Linked DNA regions of Homo sapiens: region 2 is linked to region 1. Evidence: fine-mapped expression QTL. A gene starts in region 1. The other region holds a variant in brackets. All regions are shown on one strand. Distances are from middle to middle. Region 1 holds the start of LINC01886 (long intergenic non-protein coding RNA 1886). Region 2 overlaps LINC01885 (long intergenic non-protein coding RNA 1885).

The links. PIP is the estimated chance that this variant, and not a neighbour inherited with it, causes the effect.
Region 2: its variant is the best candidate, but not a certain one, in a credible set for the expression of LINC01886 in skeletal muscle (GTEx, PIP 0.85).

The regions. Positions count from the first base shown.
Region 1 is chr2:107,526,381-107,531,768 of GRCh38, forward strand. It overlaps LINC01886 (long intergenic non-protein coding RNA 1886), which reads left to right and starts at 3,039. Exons shown (of 3, transcript NR_146968.1): 1 at 3,039-3,319; 2 at 5,280-5,388. LINC01885 (long intergenic non-protein coding RNA 1885) reads right to left here. Exons shown (of 6, transcript NR_183423.1): 2 at 2,401-2,484.
Region 2 is chr2:107,501,354-107,506,741 of GRCh38, forward strand. The region is part of intron 2 of LINC01885 (long intergenic non-protein coding RNA 1885); the gene reads right to left. Among named protein-coding and RNA genes, the nearest start is that of LINC01886, 25 kb to the right of the region's middle. RefSeq lists enhancers at 811-1,545, 1,546-2,279. The variant C/T (reference allele first, on the strand shown) is at 3,358.

The sequences.
Region 1 (5,388 bases):
TAAACCATAAGTCACTGATGCTTGCTATCTAAACAGACATCATTCAAAAATGCTTAGTTGCACTATACATTATTACATGGTTTAATAAGGCATGAATAGGCAAAGGCTGGAAGCATTCCCTTGGAGAACTGGAACAAGACAAGGATGCTCACTCTCACCACTCCTATTCAGAATACTACTGAAAGTCCTAGCCAGAGCAATCAGGCAAGATAATAAAATTAAAGGCATCTAAATAGGAAGAGAGGCAGTTAAACTATCTGTCTTTGCAGAAGATATGATTCTATACCTAGAAAACCCCAAATATTTTGCCAGAAGCCTCCTGGAACTGATAAACGACTTCATTGAAGTATCAAGATACAATATCAATGTATAAAAATCAGTAGCATTTCTATACACCAATAATATCCAAACTGAGAATTAAATAAAGAATGCAGTCTTATTTACAATAGCCACAGAAAGATTAAAATACCTAGGCATACAGCTTACCATGGAGGTGAAACATCTCTACAAGAAGAATTACAAAACACTGCTGAAAGAAATAAAAAATGACACAAACAAATGAAGAAACATTCCAAGCTCATGGATTAGAAGAATCAATAATGTTAAAATGGCCAAATTGCCCAAAGAAATGTATCAATTCAGTGTTATTCTTATCAAACTATCAATGTCGTTTTTCACAGATTTAGAAAAAAGCTATTCTAAAATTCATATGAATTTTAGAGCCTGAATTGCAAAGCTAACCAGAAAGAACAAAGCCACTAGGCATCACACTACCCAACTTCAAACTATACTACAAGGCTACAATAACCAAAACATCATGGTACTGGTACAAAAACAACACATAGAACAATGGAACAGGATACAGAACTCACAAAGCTGCACAAATACAACCAACTGGTCTTCGACAGTTTTTTTTTTTTGTTTTTTTTTTTGAGATGGAGTTTCACTCTAGTCACCCAGGCTGGAGTGCAATGGCGCAATCATGGCTCACTGCAACCTCCACCTCCCAGGTTCAAGCGATTCTCCTGCCTCAGCCTTCAAGTAGCTGTGATTATAGGCACCTGCCACCAGGCCTGGCTAATTTTTGTACTTTTAGTAGAGATGAAGTTTCACCACGTTGGCCAGGCTGGTCTTGAACTCCTGACCTCAGGAGATCCACCTGCCTTGGCCTCCCAAAGTGCTAGGATTACAGGTGTGAGCCACGGCACCCGGCCAACAAAGTTGACAATAACAAACTGGGAAAAGGACTTCCAATTCAATAAATGGTGCTGGGATAACTGGCTGGTTATTTGCAGAATATTGAAACTTGACCACTTCTTTTCACCATATACAAAAACTAACTAAAGGTAAACCAAACACTTAAATATAAGGCCTAAAATAATAAAAACCCTAGAAGAAAACCTAGGAAATACCATTCTGGACATCGGCCTTGGCAAACAAATTATGACTGAGTCTTTGAAAGCAAGTGCAACGAAAACAAAAATTGACAAGTAGTACCTAATTAAATTGAAAAGATTCCACACAGCAAAATAAACTATCAACAGAGGAAAGAGACAACGTACAAAATGGGAGAAAATATTCACAAACTCTGTATCTGACAAAGGCCCAATATCCAGAATCTGTAAGGATCTTAAATAATTCAACCAACAAAAAACAACCCCATTAAAGAGTGGGCAAAGGACATAAACAGATACTTCTCAAAAGAGACATATATGTGATAAACAAATACATTTTTAAAATGCTCATTATCATTGATCATTAGAGTAATGAAAATCAAAACCATAATGAAATACCACCTCACACCAGTCAGAATGGCTATTACTAAAAAGTAAAAAAAAAAAATAGATGTTGCCAAGGCTGCAGAGAAAAGGGAACACTTATACATTGCTGGTAGAAATGTAAATTATTTCAACCACTGTGCAAAGCAGCGTGGAAATATTTCAAATAACTTAAAATGGAACTACTATTTGACCCAGTAATCCTACTACTGGGTATACATCCAAAAGAATATAAATCATTTTACCAAAAAGACATATGCATTCGTATGTTCATTACAGAGCTAGTAACCTTAGCAAAGACACAGAGTCAGCCAAGATGTCTATCAATAGTAGTCTGCATAAAGAAACTGGTACATATAAACCGTGGGATACTACGTAACCATCAAAAAGAACACAATCATGTCTTTTGCAGGGACATGAACGCAGATGGCCATTATCCTAAGCAAATTAATGCAGGAATAGAAAATCAAATAAGGCATGTTCTCATATACAAGTGGGAACTAAACATTGAGTATACATGGATACAAAGATGGGAACAATAGACACTGGGGGCTGCGTAAGGAAGAAGGGTGGGAGTGGTACATGGAATGGAAGGGTACCGATCGGGTACTGTACTCATTACCTTGGTGACAGGATCATTCTTACACTGAGCCTCAGCAACAAGCAATATCGCCATGTACCAAACCTCCACATGCATTCCCTGAACCTAAAATAAAAGTAGAGATAAATAAATAAATATAAATAATATTTATTTATTATTGGTAAATAAATGAGGCATTTATTTACCAAGACAATGTTTGTGTTCCATGACCAGTTCTGAAAAAATGGAGTTAAATACATTTATCCAAAAAATGGATAAAAATACTAGATTATTATCCTGATGCACAACAGGAACCTGTTGTGCTGTACTCATTTTGTTTAGTCACATGTTCACAAAAAAGAATTACAATTAGGAGTATTTTTTTTAAACATGAGCAAAAGCGATATTGAAGCAGTTATGGTGTCTGGGGTAAATACCTGGGGTTCATCCTCTTGCACCAAGAAAATTTAGGACACAGACACATATGAGGAGTTTAGGAGCAGAGGTTTAATGGGAAAAGAAAAAGAAAAGAAAACAGCTCTCTCTCTCTCTAGGGAGAGGGAGGAGATTTCCAAGAGGAAAGGCCAGCTGGCAGCACATGTGGTGAATTTTATAGTCAGGCTCCAGTAGGCGGTGTCTGATTTATGTAGAGCTCACAGATTGGTTCCATCAGGTGTGACATTTACATAGCCCAGGGAAGGCTGGCCACCCTACCCTAATCTTATTATGTAACTGAACTTTCCCCTTGGCCAGGGCCATCTTGTCTGCTCCTTACTGTACATGTGGCTGGCAGAGAAGGGAAGGTGGAGCCGCTATTTTGAACATGATTGGCACAACTGCCAGCATCTATATCTGCAGCTTGATTTTACAGGCTGCTCTTTGTTAGAAAGGAACATGATTTGGGGCTACTTTTCATTAAAAGGAAAACTGTACCGAAGACTTCCATACCCTCACTATCTGTGTAAGTAATTTCTTCTTCATTCCTGTACCAATATGAGATAGTCTGAGTTTGTGGGTAAGGGAATAATTGCCATACTTCTTCTTTTACCTTAAGAAACTGGTCCTCTGTGCAACTTCATTTTGCATGTAGATGTAATTTGTTTGTCTGCAAGGGAATGTACATATTTTAAACTCACTGGCTCATAACGAATGCTTCTGGAGCACTAGGGAGTTAGGGGAAGTGGCAGGTTAGGCATAGAGAAGTATGTGCAGGTTTCAGCAAAGAGCAAGAAGAAATGTGCAAGCCTTTAGGGCCATAGTCAAGGAAAGAAGATGCATCAAGAAGTTAAAATAAGTTGCAATTTCAATCACCTAAGGCAATGAAGATAAGGACTGAGAAGAAGCTACTGGGTTAATCATACAGTGGTTTGCTTGGAAATAAATATTTCACTGGAGTGATGGAAGTAGAGAAATAACTGCCCTAAGTTAATGAGTGAAAAGAAGAAGGTGAGAAAGTGGATATGATATGTACAGAGTTAACCTCCCAAAATTTTAGCTGTGAAGGGGAGGCGATGGAGGATTTCTGGAAGAGTAGAGAAGGTTCTGGAAGTTTCCCAAAATCTTGATATTCCCATCTATACAGATAGAATATTAAAAACACATTCTCCATAGTTTTATTATGGTCACTGAGTGAGATCATCTCTTTATTTATTCCATTTCATCATATAACATAGTAAAAACTTGAGTGTTAAGTATTACTATTTTTAATTTTTGACAATTTGGGATGAAAAGCACTATTTCATTACTTTTAAAATTTTTGTTTCTTTGATTACCGGTTTGTTATTAGTTTATCAGATCCATGGATTTCTTCTGTGAATTAAGAGTCTATCTCATTTGCCTATTTTTTTCTGAGTTTTATTTTGCTTATTATTTTCAGAAGGTTTTTTTATTAAAAACATTTTGTTTATATATTCTTCTGCCTGTGTCTTTTCACACTGCACATGGAAGGACACTATTTTTCACATGCTTTTACTTTTTCTTCTAACTTCACCACCTCCTGCGCTTTCTTAAAATGGAATTTTAATTACGAATGATAATTATTTTTACATTAGGCCTTTAAGTACTTAGAAATAATTTCTTAGCAACTATTTTAGGTTTTATAATCCTATTATCCCCCCATATGTTTATATTCTACAAGTAATATAAATTTTATTAGTCAGCTCTGTGCCCTGTTGGCCCTTTTATTCTAAAGGTGAATTTAAGTTCTTTGCACCATGACATTTTCTTTTTTTTAAAAAAAGTCTTTGATAATCTCATCTTTGGCAAATTGTTGTATGAATTTCTAGAACTCCTATTAGATGAATGTTGGAATTTTTAGATTTATCTTCCAAGTTTCATTATTTTTCTTCTAATATCTTTTGTTTCCTTCACACAAGTTTCCACCTTATAAATCACATTCTCACTACGTATATTATTTATAGCACTCATCTACTCTTTATTATTTTGTTTCTATAACAATATTTTAAAACTCCAAGAACTGTTGTTGAGAGGCTTCTATTTTACTATTAACCACTTTATTTTCATTTATTTTTCTTTTCCTCCTCTTCATCTTCACCTCTTGCTTCTGCTCTTCCTCATCATCCTCTTCCCCCACTTCTTTTTTTTAAACAAATTACATCTCAATTCTTGATGAGGAGTGAGGACTGTTTATGTGGAGGTTTCCCTTTTTCCACTTTATTAATTTTGCTTTCTTAGAGTTTGTTTGCGTGTGATATCTCTTCTTAGGCTGTGATTCTTGTTTGTCTGTAAATATTTGTGGATAGTCGAAGTAGAATATATTACTAGCTCAAGTCTATTTTCTCATTTTTCAGGGAATCCCTGGAAAGAAATGAAGCTTCACACTCAGAATATCACATTTAGTGATTTCAGGAGACCAGCAGAATAGGAATTAAGCTGGAACTCCTATACAGTTTATTTTCTAGGTTTGGGACCTCTGCGTACCTCCTGTGGCTTTATGGTACCTGGTATTGTTTCCCCAGACCATGAGTCTCCAGTGTTGGAGTGCCCACTTCAGAAGTCTGTGTGTTTTGC
Region 2 (5,388 bases), 25 kb before region 1:
AACTCATTACAGGTATTAGGGCTGGGAAATGATAGGGAAGAATGGTTCACACCATCTTTAAAAGGCCCAGGCCACGTACTTAATTTTTGAAGGAGTTCCTGCTGAACAACTAAGATGACTGTACCTGGGAAAATTCGCCTATTCTCTAACAACTTTCTTTCATTTATAGGATACTATACTTTTTATGTTTCAAATCTGAAGTGCATTAAAAGTGGATAAACTCCGGAAGCAAGCAGTCCATGAGACCCCATGAGATCTAGTGCTTAGCACAGTTTTCGGCTGGGTGAATAGTTCTGGGGATGATGATGTCGATGCGGGCGTTCATTGGTTTCTTCTAAGAAGCCCAGATACTACAGACAAATCTGATGAGTGCAATTCTATTTCCATAAATGTCTGACCCAATGCAGCCAAATTAAGCAACATGGATAATTTGGAGATGTATTAAATGATAATACAATATTGGAAAATTAAAATCAAATCATTTCAAATTTTTGAAATTTCAGATTTGTGGAAGTTTATAAAGTTGTAATAAATGACAAAGATTTAATGTAGTAATTAAGAACATGAGTTCTTTAGTCATATTGCTTGGGTTTGAAATTCTGCTTTACCACTTTCTAGCTGTGTGAATTATTTATCCTCCCATGCCTCAGTTTCCTATTTTCTAAAATGAGATAGTATCTCTTTATAACAATATTGTGAATATTAACTATATATGTAAGGTATCTAGTAGCTGACACTTAGTAAGTGTTCAATAAATGTTAGCCTTTGTTATTTTGAATTAAGAATTTAATGCACAATGCCTGATTACTACGGAAAACTCGGTTATTCTGCATTCTTGAGGTGAGATGAAGTGCTATTACACACTGCCCATGTGATGCCATTAAAATGTGATTAAAGATGCCGCAGATTGGCCTACGTGATCCTACGACAATAGATTTTCAGAGGATTATCAAATATAAATGAATATTTTATGCTCTCTATTTATGACATCATTACCCATGTTAATCAAGAAAAGCCTTTATGCCCCTCCTGGTTTCCCATTAGCCAATAAATCTTCAACCTCTGTGGAAGTGATTAGAACAAAGAGAACTGTGGGCAATGTGTTTTATTCCTTCCATAGACACTGAAAAACATTGAATGGGAGCATTTTAGAAGGAATCGGTGCATTCACTATTGTTTGCACTCCTTGTGAATGGCTTGTAAAAGCTTTTCTTGGTGCTCACCTAGTTTGTATGTCTTCCCATTGTCATTCTCCTTGTCTGGCCTGTCTGCATTAACATAAAATGATGGATCTCTCTTAACTCTAAGCTAAACTTCAAAGCTCATTACTATGTATGGGGTCTGATTTCACTCCAATTTAGCATTAGTAGTCTGACTTGTAGACTTTCTAAATGAATAACAACATTTTAAATGGCCATTTGTTTGCTATGTGCTAGTCCTTCCATTTTCATGTATCTGCCAACTTCCCTTACCAGCTGGTAACAAAGGACTAGCTCCCACATTTGCATCATGAAAGAAGTCTGTAATAGCCTGTCTCTGCCCTCTCCAAGTTAGCAGCAACACACCTATAGAAGCCAATGTTAAGGATATTCTACTACCCTCTGATCCCGTGTTTAGGCTACTGGAGAGCAGGAGATAATAGGGTCATGAGTGACCTTGGAAATGATCTAATATAGTGAGATCCTTGTCAACGTTTTCTTTCACTTTTAAGAAAACAGCCCTGCTGTCTATTTGGAAAATACAGGAGATGAGGTGTGGCTTAATCGTTGAATAAAAACCAGTCAATGTCAATGTACAATTTCTGTTCTCAGGAGATCTCTTTAGAGCCAGCAAGGGATTTGGAGAAAGGACGGCAGAGAGAGGATTTCATGCAGTGCAGCTTTCAGCATCACTCTTTATTTTTGTCACTCTGGGTGGAAGAGCTTCCAGATTCAATGCCTGCCATCAGTCTTCTTTTTGAAATGAAATTTCACATAGAAGGAGAAAAACATTTTTTTAAATCAAAAGTAAGGAGATAAAAGCAACCAAATGCTATTAGGAGACAAACTGGTTTCCAAAAAAAAGTCGGTTTGCAGGTTTGAAGCTGGGAACTGTCATTGCAATGGATGGGGTGTGTGAACAGAATGTCTTTGCCACATATTTTAATTGAACATTTTTGAAACAGAAACAAATGTCAAAAAACAAAAACAAAAGTAAAAGCAAAAAAGAAGTATCTTATAACTCTGTGGCAAAGTATTCTAGTTCTGAGGTTGTTAAAACAGCTTCCTGGAGTTACCCTTCTCTCAAATCTTTTCTTCCCATCAAATGAGAAACAAAACAAAACAAAAATAAGAGAACTGGATAAAGAACTCCCAGGGTCTTGAGGCAAACACCTAAGTCTTCAATCCTTTCAATCCGCTTTCCCAGCTCTTCAGTTACTGAGTCCCCCTCTTCAGTCAGCTGCATTATTCATTTCTTCTTTTATACTCCATATACAAGGGTCTTTATTCTTGTTTCCTTCTATCATTACGATAAAAAAAACTTTGTTATTATTCTCTTAACAACAAAACATCTGCTTTCAGGGTAGCCAAAGACAAAAATGATGAGTTCTACCTTCTGCATTTTGTTATGTGATGAAACACAGAATTCCTCTAAGTCTATAAATTGCATTTCAAGCGACAGAAGAGTTTCACAGAGAGATAGAAAAGGTGCTGAGCAGTTTGCAGAGGGGTCCCAGTTGTCTCTATGCTGCAACTGTCTCTGTGTTTACCTACAGTGCCACTCTGGGGACCTGCCTTTAACAGTCTGTCTTAGGATCCTGTGTAGGGGTGTGGCAGGTCAGGTCTCACTAATGCAGGGCTTCATAACAACTGTTTCAGTACTGACTGGGTGATTAAGTTAAATATTAAAAGCTAAAAGAGCCAGTGACTTTATACAAAGGCTATAATGTAACAAAAGCCCACCAAGAGTTTTGCGAAGGCCTTTCCTGGGCCTTAAAGCATGACAAATAACAAAGGAATACTTAACAGGACCCATTTAGGATTAAACAAGTTTTGGCTGGGCATGGTGGCTCAAGCCTGTAATCCAGCACTTTGGGAGGCCAAGGCGGGTAGATCACGAGGTCAGGAGATCGAGACCATCCTGGCTAACACGGTGAAATCTTGTCTCTATTAAAAATACAAAAAATTAGCCAGGCATGGTGGCACATGCCTGTAGTCCCAGCTACTCAGGAGGCTGAGGCAGGAGAATCACTTGAACCTGGGAGGCAGATGTTTCAGTGAGCCGAGATTGCAACACTGCACTCCAACCTGGGCGACAGAGACTCTGTCTCAAAAAAGAAAAAAAAAAGTTTTGGGGGTCTGAAGAAACTCCCCAGGC[C/T]TCCACAAACAAGTTTATTAGGGGTCTAAAGGAACTCCCCAAACCTCCATGATTTAGCAGGAGAAAAGATAAGGGTAATCACGCTCGCACCTGGACCCACTTAGATTAAGTAAATTTACTGAGACTCCAGAAGAAGGTCTTCAGGGCTCAGACCTTAGTTATAGATTAAAAGACATTAATCACTTATGTCTTTATAGATGAATGCACACTTACATATAGACATATAGCTTAGAAGACATATAAGGTCTGGAAAACTTTGTAATTTTGAGTTGATCTGGTGATAATTTCCAGGTCTTCTCCCTGTAACTGGTTGTAGAAATAAACTCTCTTCCTCCCCAGTTCATCTGTATCTCATTATTGGGCCACAAGAAATAGCAGCTTGACCCTCAGTTTGGTCCAGGAAAGGGGGGAACTCTTCACATGATCTTTGCATGACAAGGAAACTCAGAAAAAACGAATGAGAGATAGGCTTTATCACAGGCATTTGTAATATTATTAATCTTCAGTGTCAGTGACAGATTAAGGACCTGCTGCAGTGTGATAGGATTCTGAGCACAGTAAATGCTTTCAGATTAGATGAGGCATCCTTAACTAGAAGGCTATGAAGAATGGAGAAGAGAGACCACGTTCTTGGTACCATGAAGTACTCTCAAAGAAACATCTAAACATCTCAACCTGTCGGGACATAACCCAGCCAGTTTACAAATGAAACTGAAGAGAAATGAAATGAAAGGAGAGGAAAAAACAAAACCACCAGATCTGCAGATTGCCAGGGGGCTGTCTCGGGTTTACTGCTCTGAGATCACATTCTCCTACCCTGAGCAAGAGCAACAGACATTGTCCTGGAAGCCTGGCAGAGGATGCCTGCTATTTTAGAGATGTTTTTAGTAAAACATCTATACTTTTCCTTCCTATTCTTCTATATCTAGTTTAATTTTTCATTAAACATCTCTCAAAAATTGGATATTGTCAGTAGTCCTCGTGCACTTTGACATACTCTAAGACTTTGGGAACCTCTAGGAATTGGGAGGAAGACAAACCTGGTTTAATAAGCTAGGGTAAATCTAAGCATTTCTTACTTCTTTGTCTTCTGCAGAGATGTCATTGACTTAGTGACAATGGCTGTTCCGTGCAGAAAAGACAAAGGCTTTTAGAGGTTCTCATTTTCCTTGGCAAGACATTGCTTTGTGTAAAGAAATCAAAGCCCTCTTAATCCCAGGCTTCAGTGAGTTTCTCTAAAAACAAAAATAAACTAATGGAATAAATGTCTAACATAGCATAAGAGAATCTGCCATTCTTTCAGCATTTTAACTCCTCTTACTGCCTTGCAAGCAGAGCTGTGTGAAAGACCTAGAAAGAGAGATCTCTGTTAGCAAAAGTGTTGGTGTTTCCTACGTAACATTCAGAGATTAGGAGATTTTAGTAAGAACTCTGGGAGCCAGAGGCAGGAATCACAGGCAAGAAATAACTCCCTCCTCTCTCTGAGGGGGAGTGATGTGGGTCTAGTTAAGTGCTATTTACAAATTGTGAAGTGTGTAGGAACTCACCACCCCCAATTTCCCATATTAATATCTTGCTAATGCAAGTGCAGTGCATTTATTACAATTTTTGAGCCAATATTTATGCATAATTATCTACTAAAAGTCTGTAATTTACATTGGGTTTCACTCTTAAGGAAGTACATTCTATGGGGTTTTAACAAAGTTTGATGCTGTGTATCCACCATTACAATTTCATACAAAGTCGTTTCATAGCCCAAAAATTTCTCTCTGCTCTGCTGACTCATTCCCCCCCACTTTAATCCCTGGTAATCACTGATATTTTTACTATATCCTAGTTTTTCCTTTTTCAAAATGTCACATAGTTGGCATATTACAGTATGTAACCTTTTCAGATTGGCTTATTTCACTTATTAATATGTGTTTATGTTTCCTCCATGTCATTTCATAGCGTTATAAGTCTCATTTCTTTTAATATTCCACTGTATAGATGTACCACAGTTTATCTATTTTCCTACTGAAGCACAACTTG